2 separate regions of the Homo sapiens genome follow, and region 2 is linked to region 1. The links come from fine-mapping of genetic effects on gene expression. A gene starts in region 1. The other region holds a variant in brackets. All regions are shown on one strand. Distances are between the middles of the regions. Region 1 holds the start of KIF1C (kinesin family member 1C). Region 2 overlaps LOC105371501 (a long non-coding RNA gene).

Region 1 (2,500 bases):
GAGGTTGCCGTGAGCCGAGGTCAGCCTGGGCAACAGAGCAAGACTCCGTCTCAAAAAAAAAAAAAAAAAAAAAAAAAGAATACTAGATAAGTTAGGAGAGAGTGCACATAGGCTCCCGAAGGACAGAAGCAGCCAGCTGGAACTGTAGAGGTGAACTAGTATTTATCCAAGGGAACTAGGGATGGGCTGGGAAAGCAGGTGAGGTCAAAAGCGGAGAGAAGTATACCGTGCGGAAGCGGCAGATGGGGCTAGTTGGAGTTGGGCTGAAAGGGCCTAAAGTGGGGTCTAAAGGGGATGTCCTGACTCGGAGGGGGGTCAGCAGAACGCGAGGGAGCAGCGGGAGCTGCGGGGCATTCGGGCCTCAGATAGTTGGGTCCAAGCGGGTGACCTAGATCCAAGGGCAGGATGGAGCTGAAGGAAGCCAGGAAGGATCCTCCACAGTTGACTTCGGGGTAGCCACGGCCTGCGCCTGCGAGGGTGGATGAGGACCCGAGGGTCCGGCTGGGGCTGAGGGGCTGCCTGGAGCCCCGCTGGAGGGAAGCGCCGGGCCGGAGGGCGCGGCCTGCGCCTGAAAGGGCGACGGGGACCCTCGACAGGTGGACCGGGCGTGGCCGGACCTTCCGGGCAGCCCCGCCCGAGGGCACGACTGGGGGCTGCTTCCCTCGAGAGGGGCCCTGAGGTGGTGGGCCCAGGCTGAAGGGCAGGCTGGGGCCTGAGGGACGCCCCGGGTCTGAGAGGGCAGCTCCGGCCTTAGGCGGCACCCGGGCCTGAAGGGGTTGTTTGGGCCTCAGGCGGCGTCCAGGGCGGCCGAACTTGAGGGCCAGGCGGGGACAGAGCGCCCGAGTAGCCGCGCCACGGCCGGCCGCATTTGGCCCCAGCACCTGAAGCAGCTGCGCGGCGAATTCTAGAACTCGGCGGGGCGGGGAGGAGAGAGACGGCGATTCGAGCCGCGGGAGGAGCCGGCGGGCGGTGCTCGTCTGAGGGCGGGGCCTGAGCGGAGCCACCTTCTGGGCGGGCCTCGGCAGGAGGCTCCGCCCCCTGGACGCGCCTCCAACGGCGGCGACGGGAACTGGGCCGGGGCCTGGGTGCCCCCGCGGGTCAGCCCCCGACGTTTCCCTGTTCTTCAGGCGTCTGCAACCCTCCTGGGTTGCGGCGTCTGCTCGCCCTTCTGCGTCCGCAGCTCGGTCCCCACGTTCCCGCTCGCTGGGCCCCACAGGCCAGGAGCGTTGCCCCTTTAACAAGAGTAGCCCGGGTCGCTCCCGGCTCCTTCCCGGGACCGCGCGTACCCGCCCCTCCGCGCGCGCTCGCGCGTCCCCCGCCCCTCGCTCCCGCCCCAGCTCGCGCTGCCCGGGCGGGCGCCGGCCGCTGGCGCCGCTACTGCTGCCGCCCCCGGGGCGCGAGTCCGCCGCCCGCCGCCCGGGCACCCGGCGAGGGGCGGGGGCAGCTCCGAACCGGCCCCAGATCCTTCCCGCTTCCGCCTCACGCTTCCCGGAAAGCTTGTCCCTCTCCGCCGAGCTGCTCCGGGAGCCCCGCCGCGCCGAGGTGAGGGCTGGGGAAGGGGGAGGGAAGGGACGCCCGCGGAGGAATGTGCCGGGTTGGGGGGCGGGGAGCCGGGGTCCGGCGGCGCGATCTAGGCTCAAGAGTCGGGATCATGTGCTGTTTGTTCCGCGGAGGCGCAGAGAGGTGCCAGGCCCGGGCGGCCGCCGGCTGGCTGGACAGGAGGACGGGTCCGCATGGCCGCCCTGAGAGGCCGGGCGGGGACCTGTGTGAGAACCGCCGGGTGGGCAAGGTGCAGGTGGCCCAAGACCCCCTTTCGGGCCGGTCGGCCCCACCCCAGCCGCCCAGTATCCTCCTTGTACCCCACGGCTCCTTCACAGCTGCACCGGCCGACCCCTGTCCCTACCTCTATTCCCTTACCCCGCTGGCCCCCAGCCGTGCCACCCCATCCCTGTCCCATTAGCTGCAGCAACGGCGTCACCATCGCTTGTCCCCACCAGTGTCCTTCCCTCCCCTGGTCAGGGTCTAGGGGGTCAGGGCTGTTCTTCCTGAGCCAGCTTCTGTGATTCCAGCTACTCCCTTCCTGTCCTGGGACAGACCAGCCCCTCACCCTCCCATGCTCTGCCCAGGAAGACTGGTGAGGGGAGGCCCAGCGTGACAGGAGTTTGGGGTCCACTGGGGCCACAGGAGGGGGCTCCGCATCCCTTATCCTTCGTGGTCCTCCTCCCTGTTGTCCGTGGGCGTGGGCTGCTCAGCCTCTCCTCCCAGGGTGTGGGCACCCGATCACCCACATTCCTGGGCTCCAGCCTGGCACCTTCCCCAGGGCAGTGGACGCCATAGCACTAGCCCCAGGTTGGGGCTGGCACCAGCCAGCCGGCTTCCTTTTCTTTCTCCCTTTTAGGGAGGCCCCAGGGACCCTCTACCCTCAAACACAGGTATTTCTGGGCGCCCCAAGGGTGGAGCCCTGAGGGTTGGTCTGATGGCTACAGGATGACCCCACCCT
Region 2 (3,004 bases), 52 kb after region 1:
ACCACCACACCTGCTAATGTTTGTATTTTTAGTAGAGACGGGGTTTTACCATGTTGGCCAGGATGGTCTTGAACTCCTGACCTCAGGTGATCCACCTGCCTCCGCCTCCCAAAGTGCTCGGATTACAGGCGTGAGCCACCATGCCCGGCCACATTTTCTAACCATTTCAATCTGCATCCAAATTCTTTGGTTTAAAGGGTTTTTTTTTGTTTTGTTTTTTGTTTTGTTTTGTTTTTAAATGGAGTCTTGCTCTTGTCATCCAGGCTGGAGTGCAATGGTGCGATTTCGGCTCACTGCAACCTCCGCCTCCTGGGGTCAAGCGATTCTCCTGCTTCAGCCTCCCGAGTAGCTGGGATTACAGGCGCCCACCACCATGCCCAGCTAATTTTTGTATTTTTAGTAGAGACGGGGTTTCACCATGTTGGTCAGGCTGGTCTTGAACTCCTGACCTCAGGTGATCCACCTGCCTCGGCCTCCCAAAGTGCTGGGATTACAGGCGTGAGCCACCGTGCCTGGCTGGTTTAAATGTTTTTAATTCCACAGGGTGAGGTGGATTTTCTTAGGATGAAAGAGACTGAGGTGCTGAAGTGGGAGGTGGAGAAATAACACAAATAGTGGAGTGAAAGCTGGGCTACAACCCAGTGGAGGGAAAACAAACATGTTCCACATGGATTTCCACCAGGCATGGTGGCTCATGCTGTAATCCAAGAACTTTGGGAGGCCGGGGAGGGAGGATTGCTTTGAGCCCAGGAGTTCGAGGCCAGCCTGGGCAACATGGCAAAACCCCATCTCTACAGAAAAAAAATGCCAGGAGCGGTGGCTCACACCTGTAATCCCAGCACTTTGGGAGGCCGACGTGGGCAGATCACGAGGTCAGGAGACCAAGACCATCCTGACCAACATGGTGAAACCCTGTCTCTACTAAAAATACAAAAATTAGTTGGGTGTGGTGGTGGGCGCCTGTAATCCCAGCTACTCGGGATGCTGAGCCAGGAGAATGGCTTGAACCCAGGAGGCGGAGGTTACAGTGAGCTAAGATCATGCCACTGCACTCCAGACTGGTGACAGAGGAAGACTCTGTCTCAAAAAAAAAAAAAAAAAAAATTAGCCAGGTGTGGTGGTGTGTACCTATAGTCCCAGCTACTCAGGAGGCTGAAGCAGGAGAATCGCTTGAGCCCAGAGGTGGAGGTTGCGGTGAGCTGAGTTCACACCACAGCACCCCAGCCTGGAGCCTAGGAGTTTGAGGCCTCAGTGAGCCCAGATCGCACCACTGCACTCCAGTCTGAGCAACATCCTGTCAAAAAAAAAAAAAAGAAAAGAAAAAAGAAGTAAACATGTTTCTTTGATTTCAATTGTCTATTAACCACAATGAAAGCCTGAAGCTCAAAGCAGCTATTCTTTTGCCTGTTTTTGCTCCCCTACACCACTAATAATTTCTGTTATAGAAACTTTGACTATTTTAAGGCTCCCGGTT[A/G]TAGCTGTGCTTCTTTTCACAGAGCCTACATCTGGCACCAGACAGAGGCCTGCAGGGAAAGTGAGCCTTCTCAAGCCCTGCATTCTTTCAAAGAGGGGACAAACTACAGACACTCATTTTGGGTGTCTTCCCAGGCACGGGTGCTGAAATTATCCTCTGTTCTGGTGTGGGGCAAGGGTGGGATTGGAGGAAGCTGCCTGGGCAAGCGAGGTCCTCCTCACGCTGTTGCTTGTCACCTTTCAAGGGCATTTATTTTGCTTCTGGTCTGATAAACAAATAATAAGATTTTCCGTGGAGGACTGGACAATCAGAGGAACTTCAAGAGGAGGGGCATATTCCTGCCTTTGGGACACGAGGAAGGAAAGGAGAAAGGAAAAGATAGACTTAGAAAGCTTCACTGCAGGCCAGATGCGGTGGCTCAAACCTGTAATTCCAGCACTTTGGGAGGCCGAGGCAGGTGGATCACCTGAAGTCAGGAGTTCGAGACCAGTGAAAACCCGTCTCTACTAAAAATACAAAAATTAGCCGGGTGTGGTGGCAGGCATCTGTAATCCCAGCTATTCAGGAGGCTGAGGCATGGAATCACTTGAACCTGGGAGGCGGAGGTTGCACTGAGCCGAGATCTTGCCATTGCACTCCAGCCTGGGCGACAAGAGCAAAACATCGTCTCAAAAAAAAACAAAAAAACAAAAACAAAAACAAAAAAAACCACAGCTTCGCTGTGCATCCTTGAGCTGCTTTTCTATTTCAGTTGAATGCATATTGCAGTTTATCATGATCACATGCAAGCGCTGCCCTACAGCTGGGCGGTGAGTTCAGAGCGATTACCATGGAGACTGAGAGAAGATTGCGTATCATCCCCCCAAACAGCATTCCAGCGTGGGAACGCCAAATCCAGATGTGAAGAACACAAACAAACAGTATGCAAAAGTTCAGAAGTTAGACTGTTTTTGAGATTGTGCCATTGGACTACTGAAAAGAGACATAAAGATGCAATTCCAACATATTGTATGATCCTGTTTATATGAAATATATAGAATAGACAAACCTCTAGAAATAGTCTCACCTGTCCAGGCTCAGCTCAGAGTGCCACTCCAGTAAGCACAGACAAGTTAATAAGTCAAAAGATACAGGTTAATCCCAGGCATAGTAGTTCGTGCCTGTAATCCCAGCACTTTGGGACGCTAAGGGGGCGTGGATCACCTGAGGTCAGGAGTTCGAGACCAGCCTGACCAACATGGCGAAACCCTGTCTCTACTAAAAATACAAAATTAGCCGGGCATGGTGGCACATGCCTGTAATCCCAGCTACTCGGGAGGCTGAGGCAGGAGAATTGCTTGAACCCGGGAGGCGGAGATTGTGGTGAGCCGAGATCATGTCATTGCATTCCAGACTGGACGACAAGAGGAAAACTCCGTATCAAAAAAAAAAAAAAGGAAAGAAAGAAAATAAAAGATACAGGTTAGAGACATATCCTATCACTGTGACATTGATAAAGATCATATTGTAAAATGGTGAGGGGGGTGGTAT

The links. PIP is the estimated chance that this variant, and not a neighbour inherited with it, causes the effect. A credible set is the group of variants that fine-mapping cannot tell apart.
Region 2: its variant is the best candidate, but not a certain one, in a credible set for the expression of KIF1C in esophagus mucosa (GTEx, PIP 0.51).

What each region holds. Positions count from the first base shown.
Region 1 is chr17:4,996,615-4,999,114 of GRCh38, forward strand. KIF1C (kinesin family member 1C) reads left to right here and starts at 1,336. Exons shown (of 23, transcript NM_006612.6): 1 at 1,336-1,542. It overlaps INCA1 (inhibitor of CDK, cyclin A1 interacting protein 1), which reads right to left and starts at 908. Exons shown (of 7, transcript NM_001394789.1): 1 at 882-908. RefSeq lists silencers at 649-738, 779-1,648, 1,699-1,798.
Region 2 is chr17:5,048,165-5,051,168 of GRCh38, forward strand. All of the region lies in intron 3 of LOC105371501 (a long non-coding RNA gene), which reads left to right. Among named protein-coding and RNA genes, the nearest start is that of SLC52A1, 14 kb to the left of the region's middle. The variant A/G (reference allele first, on the strand shown) is at 1,475.